3 separate regions of the Homo sapiens genome follow, and regions 1 and 2 are each linked to region 3. Evidence: fine-mapped expression QTL. A gene starts in region 3. Each other region holds a variant in brackets. All regions are shown on one strand. Distances are between the middles of the regions.

Region 1 (7,860 bases), 66 kb after region 3:
ATGCAACCAAGTGCCTACGGTCACAGCTACATACACACACATAGCTATAACATGTGGCCACAACACAGTAGTTAAACAAGCAACTGAACCTAACTGCGTATGAGACACGGCTACTGACACCAACATGACAAGCATACTGACCCATATGACCCACATTGACCATTATAGTTATAGAATGATACACAAAGACAGCCACACACGTATGCACGCAGCACAGCTACACCCAGACATGCAATGCTACAGACTTAGCAAACAGCCACATTTATACATTCAGATCTTATAACACAGGCGTCATCCCACAAAGCCAAATAGACACAGCTGTGCCCGGAGCTGCATATTCACAGCTGCACACTTAGACCAGAGATACTACTGGCTACAGAACCCATTTGTATGTTCAGAGAGATACACCCAGCAACATTTGCACAAGGCTTTGTTTATCCAGCTACAATCCAGGCTCATGGCTATTCTCCTCCAATATGACCCAGTTATACAGCTGTGACACACGAGGCATACACCCAGTGGAGAGCTGGAACTGGCTTAACACAGATTGTTGCGTTTTCAGGAATTTTGCAACCTGGTGGTTAAACACAGCAATTGTTTCAAAAAACTACATTATCTGCTTACAATAAATAAATTATATTAAAAACAAAGGTAAGGAATCCTCCAAAATAATCACTTCCTGATTGTTTTACTACATTGTACTGTCATGTATGGTCAGAGATAATTTACTTCTATTGTTATCTGTACAGTGGAAATATTATATAATGGTATGGTAGTGTACGTCTCCTCCCAAAACTTCCTTCAGTTCAGTGACAGCATGTTGGTAGCTTGAAATTGGCCATGGGATGAGTGTTTACACCACAGAAATTGGCAAACACTACAGGTCAGTTTTTTTTTTTTCCTTGAGAACTGGTTGTTAAACGTTGGCCAGCACACCACTGCACTTACCCATGTTGATATTCCATGATTGTGTATGTCTAGACAGATCTGCGCCCATGCTAACACAATTTGTATAGTGGTTAGAGCCCAAAAGGACTGAGTTTGAATCCCAACTTGGCTCCTTATAAAGCATGTGACCTTGAGAAAATTATTTAACCTCTCTCTTTCTTGGATTGCTCTTTGGTGAACACAGGATAATAATTCTGTAAGAATGGGAATAATACACAGGACCTACCCGATAGGGCCATTGTGAATGTTAAATGAGATAATACAGGTAAAAAACTTAGAAGAGTGCCTAGTACATAGCAAGCCTTTAATTAATGTTACACTTGGAGTTGTGTACCCCCAAGTTCACATACACACACATCTGCAGGTCACGCTTCTGAAAACCTACTGTGAACCCAAGTTCTCAGGGAGGCTAAGGACTGACAGAGGGCAGCTCTTAGGACATGGTCCAGGTCCTGCCAGGGTGGGGATTGGCAGCTGGAACCATGAACTGTGGGCCAAGGATAGGAACATACAGGACACCGTCCCCTGGTGCTCCCCAGGGAACTGATCTCAGGACAGCAGGCAGGTATGGCTTCTAGGAAGGGGCTGGGGGAAAGGAGAAGGCTGAAATGGGTCGGAGGGTGTCCAGGGCCTGGCAGCTCACAGATTTTCAAACCTAAGCCTTTTTCTGCCTCCTGCCTTCTTTCTGCTTTAGTTCTGCACAAGTTCATCCACTCAGGGAGCACTGGACTCTCTGCTGAGCCCTAAGTTCTCAGAGATTAGAACGGTTCTCTTTACCCGAGAGAAGTTAAAGTACCTGTTCACACAAAGACTTGAAATGAATGTACCTAGAAGCTTTATTTCTAGCAGCCCCAAACTGGAACCTATCCATAAGTCCCATCAACCGGTGAATGAATTTAAAACATTGTGGTAGACTGGGTGTGGTGGCTCACGCCTGTAATCCCAGCACTTTGGGAGGCCGAGGCAGGAGGATCACTTGAGGCCAGAAGTTTGAGACCAGCTTGGGCAACATGGCAAAACCCTATCTCTACGAAACAATGCAAAAAATTAGCCAGATGTGGTGGTGCATACCTGTGGTCCCAGCTATTCGGGAGGCTGAGGTGGGAGGATCACCTGAGCCTGGAAAGTCGAAGCTGCAGTGAACTGTGATTGTGCCACTGCGCTCCAGCCTGGGCAACAGAGTGAGATCTTGTCTCAAAAAATGCCAGGCAAACTGTGGTACATACATACAGTGGAAACCACTCAGTAATAAAAAGGAACTACTGATCCACGAGACAACATGGATGAGTCTCCAAAATCATTATGCCGAAATAAGCCAGATAAAAAAGGGTTTTTGCCCTACATACTCTTTACATAAAATCCTTAAAGATACAAGGTCAACTATAGTAACAGAAGGCAGAATTGTGGTTGTTTAGGATTGGGGATGGGGAGGGATGGATTAGAAAGGGGACAGGAAGAAGCTTTTGGGGCTGGTGGCTGTGCTTTTATCTTGATTGTGGTGAGGGTTCCATGGGTGTACACGTATGTTGAAACTTATCAAATTTTACACTGCAAAGTGTGCAGTTATTGTATGTGAATTATACCTCAAAAAAGCTGTTTTTTGTTTGTTTTGTTTTGTTCGAGTTGGAGTCTCGCTCTGTCACCCAGGCTGGAGTGCAGTGGTGTGATCTTGGCTCACTGTAACCTCCATCTCCTGGGCTCAAGCGATTTTCCTGCCTCAGCCTCCTGAGTAACTGGGATTACAGGCATGCGCCACCACGCCTGGCTAATTTTTGTATTTTAATAGAGATGGGGCTTCACCATGTTGGCCAGGCTGGTCTTGAACTCCTGGCCTCAAGTGACCCGCCCACCTCAGCCTCCCAAAGTGCCGGAATTATAGGTGTGAGCCACCATGCTGGCCAAACTGTTCTGTTTTGTTTTTTAAAAGGCTCCCAGTCCTCACCCTGCGAAGTTCACAGTGGGGAGGTAAGGGAAGGACGCTACAGGCACACGAGCAACAATAAGCCAGGAAGGAATTCATTTGGGAGGAAAGATGGGGAAGGGGGAGGGCATTCCTGGGGAGAGGCACAGCAGAACCAAAGGCTGGAGGTCAGGAGCCTGGCTCAGAGGGTTTGAACCCAGCAGGTGGCGGGGGATGAAGTTAGAGCACCACCTAGGACAGATTGTTTCTCGTCTCTCTCCTTCCTTCTGCCCCTTGCCTGTCCTTCGGCCACATGTCTGTCTGTATCCTCCTGCTCTCTGTACCAAGACCACACAATAGTCAGAGAAGCCTGGTCAGGACCCAGGCCCCAGTCCTCACCTTGTGGCCTCCCACAGGAAGGGGCCCTGGACCTTCTGAAGAAGCTGCACAGCTGCCAGATGTCCATCCAGCTACTACAGGTGGGGCGGGGGTGGGAAGCCTTGGGACAGTGCCTGGGGGGAGAGCTGGTGGGGGAGGGAAAGACCCCTGGTGGGGGAAGGTGGAGTCTGGGAGGAATTTCTGAGGGGGGCCTGTGGGGAGGGGATCTTGAGGTGGAGACCTCCCAGGGAGGGACTGAGGGGGACACAGGGGCATCTCGGGGGCGGAGAGGGTATCTTCTAGGTGTAGGGGACCTCTGGGCCTTGGAGCAAGACTGGTTCGCTTTTCTTGAATACCCCAATTCCCAAGGCCCTGGGCCTGTGGGATCCAAGAGGCCAATGATCCAGGGAGAGGGAAAAGCCCCCATTTAAAATCCCTGTGTAGCCCTTAAAGTCCCCAGATTTACCAAAAGCTCCTGGCCCTGAAAAATCAGCACAGACAGATGCAAGGTCTCATAGCCGGAGCTGCTGTCTCAGTTGAAACTGGAGCTCAAAGACACTAGAGTGAGCTGGCCACGGTGGCTCATACCTGTAATCCCATCACTTTGGGAGGCCGAGGCAGGCAGATCACCTGAGGTCAGGAGTTCGAGACCAGCCTGGCCAACATGGTGAAACCCCGTTTCTACTAAAGATACAAAAATTAGCTGGGCACGATGATGCACACCTATAATCCCAGCTACTCAGGAGGCTGAGGCACGAGAATCGCTTGAACCTGGGAGGTGGAGGTTGCAGTGAGCTGAGATTGCACCACTGCACTCCAGCCTGGGCAACATAGCGAGACTCCATCTCAAAAAAATAGACACTAGAGGGTTGGGAATGGGAGGGGTCCTGACAGTCAGCCAAGTGCCACCCCCAACCCTAGGTTCAGGTTTCACCAAAGCTACAGATATCCTCCATGTCAGGCTTAGCCCTGGGCCCTCGGCCTCGTGCAGAGCAGGGCCTTAGTTACAGTAGTGGGGTTCTGACCTCAGCCAGGAGTCAGGGCTAGGACTCTGGGGGTCCAGGTTGGAAGGGGAGGTGGTGGTAGAGCTGGGGCAGGATCTGCCAATGATGGCAGCCATTCCTGTGTATCCATTCCCAGATTATGCCTTAACCCTCTCACTTTGCAGACAACCAGGATTGGAGTTGCTGTTAATGGGGTCCGCAAGCACTGCTCAGACAAGGAGGTGGTGTCCTTGGCCAAAGTCCTTATCAAAAACTGGAAGCGGCTGCTAGGTGAGAGAGGACAAGGTTGTCTTGAGCCCTGTTTTTCTCCTAGCACTTGGGACAGGACTGGGCCTGGCTCATAGCCAGCACTCAGTGTATGTCTGTTGAGTGACTTAATCAGTGACAGATGGCCTCTGGATCCGGGAGGTAGCTAGTGGGGGACTGCCAATGTTTGTGTACACAAGTGCAAGATTTGTAGACTTGTGAGTTTTGTGTACA[T/C]GTGCCACTTACGTGTTTGTGCTCTCATGCATTTGTCTATATAGTACATGTCTACATGCACACATTTGTCTTAATATGTGCAGAGATGTGTTTGCCAATGTATTAATGTCCCCATGTGAGACTGTGTATTTGTACACACGTTCCTGTTGTTTGTGCATTTGTGTGTAAATGTGTTTGTGTGTGTGTTGGGAGTGTGTGTGCAGCTGTCCTCGTCCCTGCCCTTTGCTCTCTCCCCACTAAGTCATGCTGGGTTCTGCTGAGACAGAGCTTAGCTGAGGGACAATGCCACCCTTTTGTTTTCAGACTCCCCTGGACCCCCAAAAGGAGAAAAAGGAGAGGAAAGAGAAAAGGCAAAGAAGAAGGAAAAAGGGCTTGAGTGTTCAGACTGGAAGCCAGAAGCAGGCCTTTCTCCACCAAGGAAAAAACGAGAAGACCCCAAAACCAGGTATTCTTTTTTGGGATGGAGAGAAGGGAGCTGACACTTGTCACGTCCTCTGACAGCAACTCAGTGTATATTATCTCATTTAAACCTTTCATCCTGGGGAGGAAGATATTGGTATTATCTCCTGCAGTGCCCCCTCTGGGGGTCTTCTTTGGCTCAACCAGATGTTAGACTCACAAGACCCAAATAGGACATAAATGGCACTGGCTTTGCCTAGAAGGATGCAGGGACAGGAAAGAGTGCGTCTGCGGGAGGGCCTCCAGCATTTCTCTACAGAGAGTTCCCATAGGAGACCGCACGGCAGTCTAGAGCTCTTCTCTGGCCCACCCAGGCAACAGCCTAGGTGCGGGGAAACAAGACCACAGCGGGTATAAGCCTCACATCCCGAATCTTGTAACAGTCCCAAAGACAAAGATTCCAAGATGCTAGCAAAGGCAATAGCCACTTATAAGATTCATTGCACCTGGCGCAGTGGCTCACACATGTAATCCCAGCACTTTGGGAGGCTGAGGCGGGAGGATCACTTGAGCCCACGAGTTTGAGACAAGCCTGGGCAACATGGCAAAACTCCGCCTCTACAAAAAATACAAAAATTAGCCAGGCATGGTAGCGCACACCTGTAATCCTAACTACTCTGGAGGCTGAGGTGGGAGAATCGCTTGTGCCCGGGAGATGGAGGTTGCAGTGAGCTGAGATTGCGCCACTGCACTCCAGCCTGAGCAACAGAGCAAGAACCTGTCTCAAAAACAAACAAACAAAAACCAAGACATATATTATAAATTAAAAGGATCTCTACTTTCTGTATTATACAATAAAAATTTTAAATCTGAATTGTTGGGTTTTTTCACAATGATCCTGTACTGCTTTTGAAACAAAAAATAATAATAGTGCTTTTAAAAACTAAACAAATAAGAGTGATAAAAATCTGTTGTAGAAAATAATGGAAGGCCGGGTACGGTATCTCACCCCTGTAATCCCAGCACTTTGGGAGGCCGAGGTGGGCGGATCACTTGAGGTTGGGAGTTCGAGACCAGCCTGACCAACATGGAGAAATCCCATCTCTACTAAAAATACAAAATTAGCTGGGTGTGGTGGCACATGCCTGTAATCCCAGCTACTCGGGAGGCTGAGGCAGGAGAATCACTTGAACCTGGAAGTCGGAGGTTGCAGTGAGCCAAGATTGCACCATTGCACTCCAGCCTGGGCAATAAGAGCGAAACTCCGTCTCACAAAAAAAAAAAAAAAAAAAAAGGAAAATGTAGAAAAGTAGAAAAAAAAATCACCCACATTCCCACCACCCAAAGACAATCACTCTTGATGAGTTAGTGTATGGCTTTTCTTTCTGTTCTCTGACTTGTTTTCTATAGTCATCCCCAATTTTAATAGCCTGCTTTTTAAAAGGTAATGCCTGTGAAATGGTTTTGTCACATTTTCTATGTTCTGTTCCTTTCCATTGCTCATTTTGCAAGTGTATCCTACTTGGAAAAACCCTAATTGGCATCTAACTTTTCACACGAGTGTGTTTTCTTTTCCCAAAGGGGTTAGAAGTTTGGCTCGGGGAATCCCTGACCATCTCCACAGTGCCTAGCACGGAGTGAACATTTACTGAATACTGCTAGCCCATTTGTAGCAGCATGGTCCCCTGCCCTGTGGATTACCTCCTGTTCATGCCCTGGCTGGTCTGGCCATGTCTGGAGCACCTGTGTGGTTATGAGAACCTTGGCAAATGAAGGACCAGGAGCAGGAGAGCTCTTATGAGATGAAGTTGAAGGACTAGAGGCTGAACTACTGGGGAGGGACCAAATGGGATTTGGGACTAATCTGTCACATGGGGAGTGTAGGCATCCAGGTAAAAGTGGCAGCCTGAACACATGCAGTTTTTGTTTTTGTTTGCTCCATCCCCAAGCCCCACTGAATGAACAGTAAAGAGGCTGGGCGCAGTGGCCCATGCCTGTAATCCCAGCGCTTTGGGAGGCCGAGGTGGGTGGATCACCTGAGGTCAGGAGTTCGAGACCAGCCTGGCCAAGATGGTGAAACCCCGTCTCTACTAAAAATACAAAAATTAACCAGGGGTAGTGGTGCACGCCTGTAGTCCCAGCCACTCAGGAGGCTGAGGCGGGAGAATCACTTGAACCCGGGAGCAGAGGTTGCAGTGAGCTGAGATCCCGCCACTGCACTCAAGCGTGGACAACAGAGTGAGACTCTGTTTAAAAAAAAAAAAAAAAAAAAAAAAAAAAGAACAGTAAAGGGATTTCTTTTAAAGGCCTGTATGAGAACAACAGGTGTAGGAGAGGTAACAATGAAAAAGCAGAAAGCCAGGTTCTGGGCTGAACTTGTCACTTATGGCCTTCTTCTCTGAGACTCAGTATTATGGCCTGAAACACAGACATCATTTTCTCCGTTCTTTCTTCTTAAAAATAAAATGTTTTATTTGTAATAGTCTTTAATTATATTTTAGTTGTCTTAGTTTAGCGATTTTGTATTTTTTATAATACAGATAATTACTTGCTCATTGTAGAAAGTTTTAAAAATACAAATAAATAAGAAAATAGGCCGGGTGCAGTGTCTCATGCTTGTAATTTCAGCACTTTGGGAGGCTGAGGCAGGTGGATCACAAGGTCAGGAGTTCAAGACAAGCCTGGCCAACCCAGTGAAACCCTGTCTCTACTAAAAATACAAAAATTAGCTGGGCCTGTTGGCGGGTGCCC
Region 2 (7,860 bases), 51 kb before region 3:
GCTTCTTTCACATCCTGTTTCTCCTCCCCAAGCCCATAGCGGGTGAGTTACCTTGATGAGAAGATAAGACGCCTCGCAGGCTTTGGCAGGTGCCAGAGTTCACCTCTAGGTGGCAGCCTTCACCTTTCAGCCCCACCAGCTTCCAGCCAAAGGTCTGAGAGAAGGAAAAGGAACTAACGAAGACGCAGGGGGACCCACCAGGCGCCGCAGGCACATTTACTGAGCTGCAGAGCCACCATCTCAGGCGCACGTCATTCTCTCCACGTCACAACTGAGAGACGTGAAGTCACTGGTCCAAAGTCACACAGATGGGTGGCAATTGGCTTCTCTGAGCCTCATGTTCTTCATCTGTACAGAGACTGACCCATTCCCAGCAATCACTAATCTACTTTTTTTTTTTCCTGAGACAGAGTCTTGCTCTGTCACCCAGGCTGGAGTGCAGTGGCGTGATCTCGGCTCACTGCAGCCTCTACCTCCCGGGTTCATACAATTCTCCTGCCTCAGCCTCCCAAGTAGCTGGGATTACAGGCATGCGCTACCATGCCTGGCTAATTATTGTATTTTTAGTAGAGACATGGTTTCACCATGTTGGCCAGGCTGGTCTCGAACTCTTGACCTCAAGTGATCCACCCACCTCAGCCTTCCAAGGTGCTGGGATTACAGGTGCTGGGATTGAGCCACTGTGCCTGGCCTTTTTTTTTTCCGAGGCAAAGTCTCACTCTCGCCCAGGCTGGAGTGCAGTAGCACGATCTTGGCTCACTGCAACCTCCACCTCCCGGTTCAAGCGATTCTCCTGCCTCAGCCTCCCAAAGTGCTGGGATTACAGGTGCCTGCCACCACGCCCAGCTAATTTTTGTATTTTTAGTAGGGACGGAGTTTCACCATGTTGGCCAGGCTAGTCTCAAACTCCTGACCTTAGGTGATCTGCCCACCTCAGCCTCCCAAAGGGCTGGGATTACAGGCGTGAACCACCACGCCCAGCCCCACTAATCTACTTTTTGTTTCTATAGATTTATCTATTCTAGTCTGTAATCCCAGTACTTTGGGAGGCCGAGGTGGGCGGATCACCTGAGGTCAAGAGTTCAAGACCAGCCTGGCCAACAGGGTGAAACCCCATCTCTACTAAAAATACAAAAATTAGCCAGGCGTGGTAGTGCACAACTGTAGTCCCAGCTACTTGGGAGGCTGAGGCAGGAGAATCCCTTGAACCTGGGAGGTGAAGGTTGCAGTGAGCCAAGATCATGCCACTGCACTCCAGCCTGGGTGACAGAGCAAGACTCTGTCTCAAAAAAAAAAAAAAAAAAAAAAAGATTTATCTATTCTAGACATTTCACTAAATGGGATCATACAAACATAGCCTTTTGTGTCTGGTTTCTTTCACTTAGCATAATGTCTTGAAGAGTCTTCCATGTCATAGCATGTATCAGTACCTCATTCCTTTTTATGGGGCCAGGCGTGGTGGCTCATGCCTATAATCCCAACACTTTGGGAGCCGAGGCAGGAGGATTACTTGAGCCCAGGAGTCCAAGACCAGACCACGGGATATAGTGAGACCCCCGTCACTATTAAGAAAAAAAAGGCTGGGCACGGTGGCTCACACCTGTAATCCCAGCACTTTGGGAGGCTGAGGTGGTGGATCACCATCACCTGAGGTCAGGAGTTTGAGGCCAGCCTGGCCAGCACGGTGAAACCCTGTCTCTACTAAAAATACAAAAATTCACCGGGCGTGGTGGCATGCACCTGTAGTCCCAGCTACTCGGGAGGCTGAGGCGGGAGAATGGTGTGAACCCAGGAGGCAGAGCTTGCAGTGAGCCGAGATCGCACCACTGCACTCCAGCCTGGATGACAGAGCGAGACTCCATCTCAAAAAAAAAAAAATTTTTTTTTCCTTTTTTTGGCTGAATAATATTCTATTATATAAATATACCACTTTTTTTTTGAGGCAGGGTCTTGCTCTGTCATCCAGGCTGGGATGCAGTGGCATGACTTCTGCCTCCCAGGTTCAAGCAATTCTCCCACCTCAGCCTCCCAAGTAGCTGGAACTACAGGTGCACGCCACCACACCCAGCTGATTTTTGTATTTTTTTTGTAGAGATGGGGTCTCACTGTGCTACCCAAGCTGGTCTCAAACTTCTGGGCTCAATTGATGCACCCGCCTTGGTCTCCCAAAGTGCTGGGATTACAGGCATGTGCCACTGTGCCTGGACTCCACATTTTGCTTATCCAATCATCAGTTAATGGGCATTTGGGTTGTTTCTACTTTCTGGTTATTATGGATAATGCTGCTATGAACATCTGTGTACACATTTTTGTGTGAACATATGTTTTCAATTCTCTTGGGTATATGGGAGTAGAATTGCTGAGTCATGTGGTTAACTCTGTATAACTTTTTTAAAAACTGCTGAACTATTTTCCAAAGCAGTTATACCCATTTACAATCCCACCAGCAATGAATGAGGGTTCCAATGTATGAGGGTTCTCCACATCCTGGACGACACTAGTTATTGTCTCTCTTTTCTATTATAACCATTCTAGTGGGTTAGTGAAGTGTCATCTCATTGTAGTTTTGATTTGCATTTCCCTAATGACTAATGATGTTGAGCATCTTTTCACGTGCTTATTGGCCTCTGTATATTTCCTGTTTTTTTTGAGACGGACTTTGGCTCTTGTCTCCCAGGCTGGAGTGCAATAGCACAATCTCGGCCCACTGCAACCTTTGCCTCCTGGGTTCAAGCGATTCTCCTGCATCAGCCTCCTGAGTAGCTGGTACTACAGGCGCCCGCCATCACGCCCAGCTAATTTTTGTATTTTTAGTAGAGTCAGGGTTTCACCATGTTAGCCAGGCTGGTCTCGAACGCCTGACCTCAGGTGATCCACCTGCCTCAGGCTCCCAAAGTGCTGGGATTACAAGTGTGTGAGCCACTGCGTCCGGCCTGGCCTCTGTATATTTTCTTTGAAGAGTTGTCCAACCAAATTGTTTGCCTTCTTAATAAATTTTGGTACACACACACACACACACACACACACACAGCACATTCACATCCCATCCCAGATTCACTTCAACGCAATAAACCCGAGACAGCTGTGATTAGCCCTGTTTATCAGATGAAGGAACAGAGGCCCAGAGTAATGCAATGATATGTCCAAGAGCACATAGCTTATGGAGTGCCAAGATTTAGAATTTTATGTTTTTTTCTTTATTTTTCTTTATTTTTATTTTTTTGAGACGGGTTCTCACTCTGTCTCCCAAGCTGGAGTGCAGTGGTGCAATCTTGGCTCACTGCAACCTCCGCTTCCTGGGTTCAAGCGATTCTCCTGCCTTAGCCTTCCGAGTAGCTGGAATTACAGGTGTGCACCACCACACCTAGCTAATTTTTATATTTTCAGTAGAGACAGGGTTTTTCCATGTTGGCCAGGCTGGTGTCGAACTCCTGGCCTCAACTGATCCACCCACCTCGGGCTCCCAAAGTGTTGGGATTACAGGCACGAACCACTGCACCTAGATTTTTTTTTTTTTTTTTTTTTTGAGACAGAGTCACTGTCGCCCAGGCTGGAGTGCAGTGTCGAGATCTCGGCTCACTGCAGGCTCCGCCCCTGGGTTCACGCCATTCTCCTGCCTCAGCCTCCCGAGTAGCTGGGACTACAGGCGCCTGCCATCTCGCCCGGCTAATTTTTTGTATTTTTAGTAGAGACGGGGTTTCACCGTGTTAGCCAGGATGGTCTCAATCTCCTGACCTCATGATCCGCCCGCCTCAGCCTCCCAAAGTGCTGAGATTACAGGCGTGAGCCACCGCGCCCGGCCTGCACCTAGAATTTTATGTATTTAACAAACATTCATATAGTGTTTACTACATGCCAGTCACTGTTAGAAAAGCCCACGAACCCATCTTCCAACAATGTTCCAGTAAAAAGGTTACCACTAGCAGAACTTCCTTAAAGCAA[T/C]ACCTTGTTTCTCTTTTTAAAAAACAACTTTTTTTTCTCCAATCACCAAAGTAATACATGTTTATTGTAGAATAGGAAAAGCACAAAGAAGATGGAGCAGGGATTTTTCTCCCTTGTTTCCCATAGCTCTGATCTGGTTTCTCTGTGATTTGGGATTCGTGTGAACAGGTGATGTGCTGAGGAGCCCGGGACAGGGAATATGTACCTTCAGGAAGTGTCTGTCAAGCAGTTTGTATTCTGATTAACAGGACTTTGAGCACAGGGAATCTGTGGAATTTTTCAGGAGAAGATACACCAGCTGGAATGGAAGTTTGCTTTAGTTTGGGGATTTTTCCAGGACTATCTGGGGTTGCCTGGAACAGGAACTTCCTCACTTACCTGCTCTGTGGCCTCAGGCAAGTCATGGCTTCCTCATCTGGAAAATAGTACTAAGCATCCCCAACTCATCCAGTTGTGGGACACAGTCTTTCCACTTCCAGCAATGTGTGCAGCACTGGAACCCCTGGTTCATTAGCAGAATGTACCCTCCTTCACATGGGGTTTTGGGGCTGAGTTCACTGTTCACAACAGCGCAGTGCCTTGGGAGAGATCTGAGTTCAGATCCTGATTTCATCTTCAAACAGTTGTCAAGTTCCTTTACATATTTCAGCTTCAATTTCTTCATCTGTCCAAAATGTACCTGTGTTACAGGGTAGTTGGGAGGTTTCGACAAAATAATGTATGTAAAATACCTAGCTGGGTGTTTACGCCTAGGAAGTTCTCAGGAAATGTGAACTATTATCATTTATTTCAGGCCTACTTTGTGCCTGGCATCTCAGGGGAGGAAGGCGCAAAAGTGAAAACAAAGCCTGGGTCCTGCCCCCAAGGAGTCTGAAGATTTGTTGATAGGTAGATTAAAGTAAAAGGGTCTTATGCACTGGAGATAGGATCAGAGACGTAAGAAAACTGCCAATTCTTGAGGCTCCTTATAAACCAGGTTCCATGCTGAAAGCTTTATATGCATTATCTATGAGATTTCTTCACAATCCTATGAGGTAAGTGCTATTAGGATTAGAAAATCAAGGATCAAAGATCAGAGAATTTAGGAAATTTTGCCTGGGTCACACAGCTAATAAAGTGTCAGGGCCTGGGTTTGAACCCTGGGATGTCTGACTTCAGATTCTTTGCTCCTTCCACTCCATTTGAGTTGGACCTTGAAGGATGAGTCAGATTTGGGCACATGGGGATGGAGGGGAGGAGGGGCCTGGAGGGGAGGCGGGGCCTGAAGAATAGGAGGATATGGAGCCAGGTAAGCAAAGCCTGGGAGATGGGAAAGTGTAGGGCGTGTACGGCAGAAACTCTGAGGGTTTTGTGTGTGTGTGTGTGTGTGTGTGTGTGTGTGTATGTGTGTGTGTGTGTTTGAGACAGGGTCTCGCTCTGTGACCCAGGCTGGAGTGCAGTGGCACGATCTTGGCTCATTGCAACCTCCACCTCCTGGGTTCAAGCGATTCTCCTGCCTCAGCCTCCCGAGTAGCTGGGATTACAAGCACACACCACCACGCCTGGCTAATTTTTTTTTTTTTTGTATTTTTAGTAGAGACAGGTTTTTGCCATGTTGACCATGCTGATCTCAAGCTCCTGGTCTCAAGTGATCCACCCACCTCGGCCTCCCAAAGTGCTGGGATTACAGGCATGAGCCACCGTGCCCGGCCTGTTTGTTTATTTTGAGACAGTCTTACTGTGTCACCCAGGCTGGAGTGCAGTGACATGATCATGGCTCACTGCAGCCTTGACCTCCCTGGGCTCAGGTGATCCTCCCACCTCAGCCTCCCGAGCAGCTGGGATTACAGGCGTGTGCCACCACGCCCAGCTAATTTTTCTGTATTTTGGAGAGACAGAGTTTTGCCATGTTGCCCAGGCTGGTCTCAAACTCCTGGGCTCAACAGATCTGTCCACCTTGGCCTCCCAAAGTGCTGGGTTCACAGGCATGAACCAATGTGCCCGGCCTGAAACTGCAAGTATTTAGTCTGGTTCCATGTGAGGGCCTCTTCGGGTCCATTTCACATAAACCTTAGCCAAAATATATTAAGTACCTACCATGCACCTGACATTTCTCTAAGGACTTTATAACCAACACCTTACTAAGGCCTCACAGTAAATGGAGAGGTCACTTGTGCCGCCTCCATTTCAAAGATGAGGAAATTGAGACTCAGAATGGTCCAGCAACCTGACCATGATCACAATGCTAGGAATGAATGGGGCAGGAATTCAAGCTCAGGGAGGCAGATTTCAGATCTGTGCCCCACACCTATTGCAAGAATTAGTCAGTTCCCAGGCAGTGAAACTCTAAAGCCAGCCCCAGCTGCCCGAAACTCAACCACAGAGAGCTGGCTCTCAGCCCCTCACTGGCTCCCTTCTTTTCTCCCAGCTCCACCCTGCCACCCCCATTTCCCTCCCTGGCCCTGGGGCCCTGCTGCTTCCCCAAACCTGCTCTGCCACAATTCCTTCCAGGTTCCCTCATCTGTAAAATGGGGATAATAATAGTGTCCGTCTCAGAGCAGTGTTGTGAGGATCAGAGGAGGGGCTCAAGGTGCTTAGAGCCCAGTGTATAGTAGGTTCTCAATAAAAATCAGTGATCATCGCCACCACTGTCATTTAAGTAGTGTCTCTGAAGTAATGTGAAATTGACTGAGTGATAGCATTATCCACATTTGATGGTTGAGGAAATTGTGGTTAAGAGAAGTGAAGCAGCGGCTGTCCAGTGTCACTTAACTAGGAAGTAGAGAGCGGGACTTACTTAATCTGGGCCTCCTGACTTTCTGACTTCAGATCTCATTAACTTCTCCTATTCTTTGCAGCCAGGCAGATGAGTGAATCATAATCAGTATTTATTACCTGCCTTCTGCACTCCAAGCCAGGCCCTAGATGCTAAGGGGCATTCTAGAGAGATCTGACCTAGATTCTTGAAGGAGCATAGAACCTAACTGATAAACAAGGTATGAAAACGAAGCCTTGTTTTGTTGAGGTAGAACACACTAAGGGTCCCAAGAGGGTAAGAGCCATTCTGGCTGAGAGGAAGCAGGCAGGGGAGGCTTCTTGGAGGAGGTGAGATTTAAGCTGGCCCTCAAAGGACCAAAAAGGACCAATGAGATACGTAGACTAGAGTAAAAGGGTCTTATGCACTGGAGATAAGGTCAGAGATGTGACCGGGAGCGGTGACTCACACCTGTAATCCCAGCACTTTGGGAGGCCAAGTAGGGCGGATTGCCTGAGGTCAGGAGTCCGAGACCAGCGTGGCCAACATGGTGAAACCCTGCCTCTACTGAAAATACAAAAATTAGCCAGGCATGGTGGCTGGCGCCTGTAATCCCAGCTACTCGGGAGGCTGAGGCAGGAGACTCACTTGAACCTGAGGCAGGAGAATTGCACCGCTGCACTCCAACCTGGTGACAGAGTGAGACTCTGTCTAAAAAAAAAAAGTCAGAGATATAACAACAGCTGCCAATTCTTGAGGCTCCTTATGATCCAGGTTCTGTGATGAAAGCTTTATATGCATTATCTCATGAGATTTCCTCATGATCATATGAGGTAAGTGCTATTAGGAGGAGAAAATCAAGGATCAAGGATCAGAGAATTTACAAAATTTGCCTTGGTCACACAATGAATAATAAAGTGTCTGGGCCTGGGTTTGAATTCGGGGCTGTTGGCTACAAAGCCTGGGCTCTTAATCATCATGGGTTATTGCCACCTTGGCCTCAACCATCTAATGAGGAATTAAGCTGTGGACTGTCTCTGGAGGGCTTTGAATGCCAAGGCTCAGACTTGCATAAAAATCACACAGCACCAGGCAAGAAATCAGACCTGAAATCTAGCAGCAGCTTCTAGCAACTTTTTACCACTCACTACCCAAGTTTGCTTCTCTGAGCCTCTCTAAACCGG
Region 3 (7,860 bases):
AGTATTGAGTGGGTATTGAGTGAGCTATTGCTTGTATAGCCCTTGGCCCTGTGACTAGTACGTAGTAAATAAATAAATAAATAAATAGGTGGGCCAGAGCCCCAGACCAGAAAACTGATTATTACAGTCCACAGTGGTAATTGCTGTGGTGGGAGATACTGGATCCCGTAGGAGTCCAGAGTAAGTACATCAAGGAAGGGTTCTTGGAGGAATTGACATCTAAGTTGGCCTGCTGAAAGGACGTGGGAGAGCATTACAGACGGAGGGGAGAACAGTGAAGGGGCTCAATCACAGTGGGGACAGAGAGGCAAGAGATCAGCCTGTGAATGGCAGGAGCAGCAAGACCATGCAGGGCTAGACATCCATGAAAACAAGTTTGGCTTTTATTCAGAGAGCAATGCGGGGGGCACTGAAGAGTTCTAAGTAGAGGAGCAACAGAACAGATATGCAAGATTAGGGGCAGGGAGACCAGCGAGGAAGTGAGAGGTGGCAGTGGTCTGGACTGGGGTTGGCCTGCAGATGGAGAAGGTGGTCTCACTGGTGAGACTAGTGACAAGACTTGTTTGAGGGGAGGTTGGTAGAAGAAGGGAGGAGAGGATGACTCCGAGGGGGTGCATGGTAATGCCTTCCATCAAGACAGGGACAGAAAACAATCTGGTGCAAGGAGTGGGCGTACGAGATGGTGAGTTCAGTTTTGGACCTGTAGAGTTTAAGGTGTCTGTCTGTGAGCCAGTGAAATGAAACTGTCTCATAGGTGGCTGGATACATAGATCTTGAACTAGAGAAGAGTCCAGGCTGGAAATACAGCCTTGGAAGATGTGATTGGCTCAGTAATGGCTCCCAAAGATATCCAGGTCCTAATCCATGGAACCTGTAAATGGCACTTATATAGCAAAAGAGATTTTGCAGGTGTGATTAAATTAAGGATTTTGAGATGGGGAGATTATCCTGGATTATCTGGATAGGCCCTAAATGTAATCACAAATGTCCTTATAAGAGGGAGGCTGAGCACTTTGAGAGGTCCAGGTGGGTGGACCACTTGAGGTCAGGAGTTGGAGACCAGTCTGGCCAACATGATGAAACCCTGTCTGTACTAAAAATACAAAAAATAAAAATATAAGTAAATAAAAAATAAAAATAAAAAATTAGCTGGGTGTGGTGGCATGGGCCTGTAATTCTAGCTACTCAGGAGGCTGAGGCACAAAAATCCCTTGAACCTGTGAAGCAGAGGTTGCAGTGAGCTGAGATCACACCACTGCACTCCAGCCTGGGCGACAGAGAGGCATCACGTCTCAAAAAAAAAAAAAAAAAAAAGAGAGAGGTTGAACTAGCTGGGCGTGGTGTCATGCACCTGCAGTCCCAGCTACTTGGGAGGCTGAGGTGGGAGGATCGCAAAAGCCCAGGAGGTTGAGACTTCAGGGAGCTGTGATCACTCCACTGCTTGGAGTGACAGAATGAGACCCTGCCTCAAAAAAAAAAAAAAAAAAAAAAAAAAAGAGGGGGCCGGGCGCCGTGGCTCATGCCTGTAATCCCAGAACTTTCGGAGGCCGACGCGGGTGGATCTCCTAAGGTCAGGAGTTCGAGGACCAACATTGAGAAACCCCATCTCTACTAAACATACAAAATTAGCCGGGCATAGTGGCGCATGCCTGTAATCCCAGCTACTCTGGAGGCTGAGGCAGGAGAATCGCTGGAACCCGGGAGGCGGAGGTTGTGGTGAGCTGAGATCGCACCATTGCACTTCAGCCTGGGCAACAAGAGTGAAACTCCGTCTCAAAAAAAACAAAAAAAAAACAAAAAGAAGAGGGGTGGGGAGGCTGGGAGAAATTTGATCACAGGGAAGAAGGCAAGTAAGATGCTTGAAGATGCTGCTGCCCTTGAAGGTGGAAGGTGCCATAAGCCAAAGAATGCAAAAACTACAGCTCTCGAAGCTGCAAAAGCAAGAAAACAGATGCTCCCTTATAGCATCCAGAGGAAGTACAGCCCCACTGATACCTTGATTTTAGCCCAGTGAAAGTTATTGCAGACTTGTGACCTCCAGACATGTAAAAGAATAAATGTGGCCAGGCGCAGTGGCTCATGCCTGTAATCCCAGCACTCTGGGAGGCCGAGGTGGGCGGATCACCTGAGGTCAGAAGTTCAAGACCAGCCTGGCCAACACGGCGAAACCCCGTCTCTACTAAAAAATACAAAAATTAGCTGGGTGTGGTGGCACGTGCCTGTAATCCCAGCTACTCGGGAGGCTGAGGGAAGTTATTGGTGATTTGTTATAGTAGCAACAGGAAACTAGTACAGAAGACATCAACATTACCGTTGGGATTGGATGAAGAAATCCAGGAAGGCTGATAGAGTGAGACATGCAGAGGATTTAGCAGAGAGCTCCCAACAACTCCAGCATTTAAGATCCCTGCGGAGGAAGTGCATCTCAGAAAGGGCTCTTGGAACAGCCAGAGGGAGAGGGCCACCAAAGAAAATAGTTCTCCTAGGATTCAGGGGCAAGGGTGTTTCAAGGAGAAGGGAGTGGTTAACATTGTCAGATGCTCCTAAAAGTCAAGCAAGAAAAGTGCCTAAGCTCAGGAGTTTGAGGCTGCCTTGAGCTATGATCATTGCACTGCACTTCAGCCTGGGCGACAGAGTGAGACCTTGTCTCTAAAAATAAATAACAAGAAAAGTGCCTATTTGGTTTCAACAGGAGAAGTTGACCTTGAAAGAACTCTTGGAATAGTTGTCGTCTCTATCAGATGGTACACATTTTTTTCAACTTTTAATTCTTTTTTCTTTCTTTTCTTTTTCTTTTTCTTTTTTTTTTTTTTTGAGACAGGGTCTCACTTTGTCACCCAGGCTGGAGTGCAATGGCAGGATCTCAGCTCACTGCAAACTTGACCTCCCAGGTTTAAGCCATTTTCCTGCCTCAGCCCACCAAGTAGCTGGGACTACAGGCAAGAGCCACCACGCCGGGCTAATTTTTGTATATTTTGTAGAGACAAGGTTTCGCCATGTTGCTCAGGTTGGCCTTGAACTCCTGAACAATCCGCTCACCTCGGCTTCCCAAAGTGCTAAGATTACAGGCATGAGCCATCGCTCCCGTCAACTTTTAATTCTATTACACAGTAGTATATGGTCATTGTATAAAAGTTAGGATATACAGATTCACCAAAAGAAAAGAAAGTTACTCATAATGTCTTCAGCTAGTGCATATCTGTCTTCAGCTAGTGCATAAAATGTTGCTGGTGCAACATTTTAGTGCATATCTTTCCGGATTTTTTCTTTTCTTTTCTTTTCTGTGCGAGAAAAGAAAAGATTCTCTCAATCGCCGCCCTGTGGGGTAAAATACCATGAGGCCATTTTAAGAGGGGGAAATGCAGGCTTAGAGAAGCAAGCAATTTATCCAAAGTAACCAAGATTGGAATCTAGGTTCCTCTGACTCCAAAACCAATGTTCCTTGCTGCGGTGCTTTCCTAGCTTTTTACTTGGAGAACTTTTCCCCAGAGGACCTCAGGCTTCAGAACTAAACCTAAGTGGATTTCTATCCTGAACCCCATCCCTCATCCGCCCCAAAGGATGGTGAGCCAGATTAAGGGGTGAAAGGCAGGAGCAGGAAGAGTAAAGGCGTGGGTGCGATCTATGGTCGGGTAAGAGGGAACTAGTACACGCACGTGTTCGGTTCTTCGCAACATCACAATCAAGCGGGCATCAGGCTTCCCATTGTACAGATAAGGAAACTGAGGTTCCAGAAGAGAAGTAATTTTCCCCAAGTCACACAGCTAGCCAGGGGCCCCGATCCACACATCCCCGGGGCGGCGGGGGTTATCAGGAGGGAGTCTCCGGATGCCTGCAAAGCTGAGGCTGAGAGCTGGGCGTACGCAGCAAAGGAGGGGTGGGGCGATTCGGGGCGGAGCGAGGCAAGGAGATTGGGCGGGACTGGGGAGAGAGGAGGGAAGGGTGGCGGGGGGGTGGTAGGGCAGAAGGGGCGAGGTCATGGGGAACTCGGAACGAATCAGCAGAGGAGGGAGGAAGAGGGAGGGGGCTCTAAGACTCGACGCGGAGATGGAACAGCCTGGGCCGTGCAAGGGAGGAGGATTTGGAAGACCCAGAGCGGGATGAAACGGGACAGAGCCCTGAAGGGGCAGGGATGGGGGAAGGCGGAGGAGTTTCTACTGAGGCCAGGGGTGGGGCATCGCGCCAGGGGGCGGGGTCTGAGGCGGTGAGGGGCTGGGGGCGTGGCCTAGGGGGCCGGCGAGGGGCCGGGGAAGCGGCCTGACGCGGTGCGGGGCCGGGACCGGGGCCGGAGCCTGGACCTTGGCGGTGGAGGAAGGCGAGGAGCCGGGGGCGGGGCCGTCCCAGCTGAGGAGCGGAGAGCGGCTGGAGGGTCGGGGGCGGGGCGTGCGGAGGGGCGGGGCGTGTGGAGGCCGGGACGGCGCCCCCGGCCGGCGGTGAGGCCGGCTCAGCGCGGAGCAGCTCAGTGCCCCCCGCGCCCCGCTCCGGCAGCTCCACGCTCGCGCCCGCCATGCCGGAGCAGTTCAGCGTCGCCGAGTTCCTGGCCGTCACCGCGGAGGACCTCAGCTCCCCGGCTGGGGCCGCCGCCTTCGCCGCCAAGATGCCCCGGTACCGAGGGGCGGCGCTGGCGCGGGAGGAGGTGAGGGGGCCGAGGCGGGAGGGGTCGGGGGTCGGCGCCGGGCCTGGCCTTGACCTCCACAGGCGTGTCGCACCCGAGCTGCGATGGCCCTTCACCGCGCCCCGAAACCTGCCCCCTCCCTAGGTCTGGGAGGACCGAGCGCATCTCCAACAGCTGCGTCCTCACCGTCGAGGCGGGGGAAGGCCCGAGGGACCGTTTTGGGGGGCCTCGAGGTCTCTTCGATGACAAACTCCACAGGTCGGGGGACGTACCCCAAGTGCCCCGCGTGACCGCCTCATCACATATGTGTTTGCCTAGCGCCTTCCAGCCTCAGTTTGCGTTTTCATCTTCGGAGCCCCACAAGTGTGCCCCCCGAGTCACTCCCCTTCTGAGAGGCAGGCTTCCCGCCTCAGTCCTGAACTTTCTTCCCCCCGGCTGCAGAGAGGCCCCCTCCCGCTTGCGGCTGGTTCGGAGATTTGGCCCGCGTTTGTGGAATGAATGCGGATGGGAAGGCGCCAGGAGCCGGGGTTCACCTTGGCCGGGCTGTTGGCAAGTTTATCGTCTCCTCTCCCCTCCCCTCTCCTCTTTGTCTTTCCCAGCAAAGCGTCCCAGGCCTTTTCTTTCGGTCTTGCAGGCTGCCCCACCCCATTCCCATGCTCTTCGGAGTTCCTTCCATTCCTCTTCTCTGAACCTGCTGCAGCTTTCCGCAGCTCCTCTGCAAAGAATATTCTAGGACAGACACCCCGTGGCCTTGGTCCAACGGAGAATAATGTGTTTTTGCAGCTCCCCATCCAAAGGATGCCCTCAATTTGGGTGGCATTTTGGACCTCAGCAACGGCTCTAGCCTTCCACCCTTCACCTTAAGTGTACTAGGCACCCACTGCGTGGCAGATACAAAGCTCAGTAGTTCATAACACCCTGCGCCAGTGTCAGGAAATCTGTCCTCTTCTCTCTTGTCAGGGTGACCCTCCATCTCGGAGTCTGTTTGTATCACTTTGTAAGGGTGATAGAGGATTGTGGAAGGAGCATCGACTTTGGGGAAGGCAGACCTTTTTTCTTTCCTTTTTTTTTTTTGAGACGGAGTCTCGCTGTGTCGCCCAGGCTGGAGTGCAGTGACGCGATCTTGGCTCAATGCAAACTCCGCCTCCCAGGTTCACACCATTCTCCTGCCTCAGCCTCCCGAGTAGCTGGGACTACAGGCTCCCGCCACTACGCCTGGCTAATTTTTTTTTTGTATTTTTAGTAGAGACGGGGTTTCACCGTGTTAGCCAGGATGGTCTCGATCTCCTGACCTCATGATCCGCCCGTCTCGGCCTCCCAAAGTGCTGGGATTACAGGCGTGAGCCACCGCGCCGGCCAAGGCAGACCTTTTTTCAAACGCTGGCTCTGCAGTTTGCCATTTGGGTGAACGTGGGCATGTGACCTGTCCTGTCATCTGTGGAATGGGGGTAATAATGTGTACCTCACATGAGACAATGCATATAAAGCATGCATCTTTTTTTTGGAGACAGAGTCTTGCTCTGTCTCCCAGGCTGGAGTACAGTGGTGCGATCTCAGCTGACTGCAATCTCTGCCTCCCGGGTTCAAGCAATTCTCATTCCTCAGCCTCCCAAGCAGCTGGAATTACAGGCATGCTCCACCACACCCGGCTAATATTTGTATTTTTAGTAGAGACAGGGTTTCACCATGTTGGTCAGGCTGTTCTTGAACTCCTGAGCTCAGGCAGTCTATCCGCCTTGGCCTCTCAAAGTACTAGGATTATAGGTGTGAGCCGCTGCACTGGCCCATGCCTCTTGATAAATGGAATGATTATCGTCAGATTAATCGGCAGATCTCTTTAGACAGTGATTGGGTCTCTTTTGTCTTCATTTGTCTCACAGAGCCTCACCTTGTCTCATTTGTCTCACGGAGCCTAGCCTACTACTTTGCACATAGTAGGGGTACATGTTTTATTAAAATAAGAAGCAGCCGGTCAGATTTGGCTTCCTTCCTTGGGCAGAGTCCACTGCCTGTGGATGTGGGTTATATTTTACTGTGGGGCTCACAGGGAAACACTGCTGTCCAGCCCATCCTTTGGAGAGCTTCCTGAGATTTGTCTTCATAGCCTCACATTTCATGACCCAGAATAGCTCAGTGCCATCCACATTCTTAGGGATTTCATGGTTCATCCTCCTCCCCAGGTTGTTCATTAGAATCTTAGAGCAGGAGAAGGGGCTCCAATATGAACCTTATCCATGGACAGAAATGCCCATTTATGCCCATACATCTGGCCTTGCCTGGCTGTGTAAGTGTAAGCACTGTGTGTTGGGGGAGGGACCCTTAGAATGGGTCTGGAGGCCACAGCAGGCTCTGTTCAGGGCTCAGCTTTGCCCCAGTTCAGGCAAGACAAAACCCATCCTCCTTTGCCTTCAGATTTTTGGTTTGGTGCACGTAGAGGTTCATTGTTACAACAGAAAGGCTTGCGGCACCCAAACACAGCTTTTCTCTTCAGCATCTCAGGGCCCAAAAAGTTAGAGTCTGAACTTTGGATTAGACTTCCCTGAGGTTTCCTGTTTGGTTTTGCATTTGCATTTATATTTTGCGATTATATTGTGTTTACATATAGTTTGATGCTGCAATTTTTTCCCCCAGTTCTGGGCTTGACTAACCCACCCCCAGGCTTGTAGCTCTATTTGACTGAATCAAAATGCAACTGATTCTTAAGTCAAGTCTTCCAGTTCTGACTGGTTTCCTGGGAGTAACTAGGGACCCTGTCCTGGGACTCGCAGCCCTTTTGTACAGTCCTGCTGGGAAGGACCCTGGGCAGATCACAGGAAACTAGAATGTCAGGGCTGAGGGACCCTTTTAAGATAGAGACCAGCTAGAAACTCTCTCAGATAAGATGGAGTAACTGATGTCCAGAGAGGCCAAGAGACTTGGCCAAGCTCCTGCGGCTGGATAGTGGGAAAGTTAGCATTTCTACCCACGTGTTCTACCCCCGGTCCTGTTCTCTTTCCTTTTAAAGTCCATCTGTCTGTCCTCCCTACGTAACTTCTCTGAACCTTGTTATTTTATCCTTAAAATGGATCTCTTAATCACTCCCTGCTTACCTTACTGGGTTGTTAAAGTTTTTTGTGTTCAATTATGAAGCACCATGCAAATGTGAGGGAGTATATTAAGATAGTCATTACGTCAACCAGCCTCTTCCTGTCTTGGGCCCCTTTATGCCCATCATCTCATTGATATTCACAACAACAGGTGAAACC

What was found.
Region 1: its variant is fine-mapped to the expression of ASAP3 in whole blood (TOPMed, PIP above 0.99).
Region 2: its variant is fine-mapped to the expression of ASAP3 in whole blood (INTERVAL, PIP above 0.99).

The regions. Positions count from the first base shown.
Region 1 is chr1:23,414,544-23,422,403 of GRCh38, reverse strand. It overlaps TCEA3 (transcription elongation factor A3), which reads left to right. Exons shown (of 11, transcript NM_003196.3): 2 at 3,265-3,327; 3 at 4,395-4,500; 4 at 5,014-5,155. Among named protein-coding and RNA genes, the nearest start is that of TCEA3, 6.3 kb to the left of the region's middle. RefSeq lists an enhancer at 2,704-3,262. The variant T/C (reference allele first, on the strand shown) is at 4,711.
Region 2 is chr1:23,532,244-23,540,103 of GRCh38, reverse strand. It overlaps LOC124903876 (a long non-coding RNA gene), which reads right to left and starts at 221. Exons shown (of 3, transcript XR_007065537.1): 1 at 52-221. RefSeq lists an enhancer at 1-267. The variant T/C (reference allele first, on the strand shown) is at 3,943.
Region 3 is chr1:23,480,781-23,488,640 of GRCh38, reverse strand. ASAP3 (ArfGAP with SH3 domain, ankyrin repeat and PH domain 3) reads left to right here and starts at 4,462. Exons shown (of 25, transcript NM_017707.4): 1 at 4,462-4,636. The coding sequence starts at 4,508. RefSeq lists an enhancer at 3,598-3,697 and silencers at 3,888-3,937, 3,948-4,057, 4,178-4,627.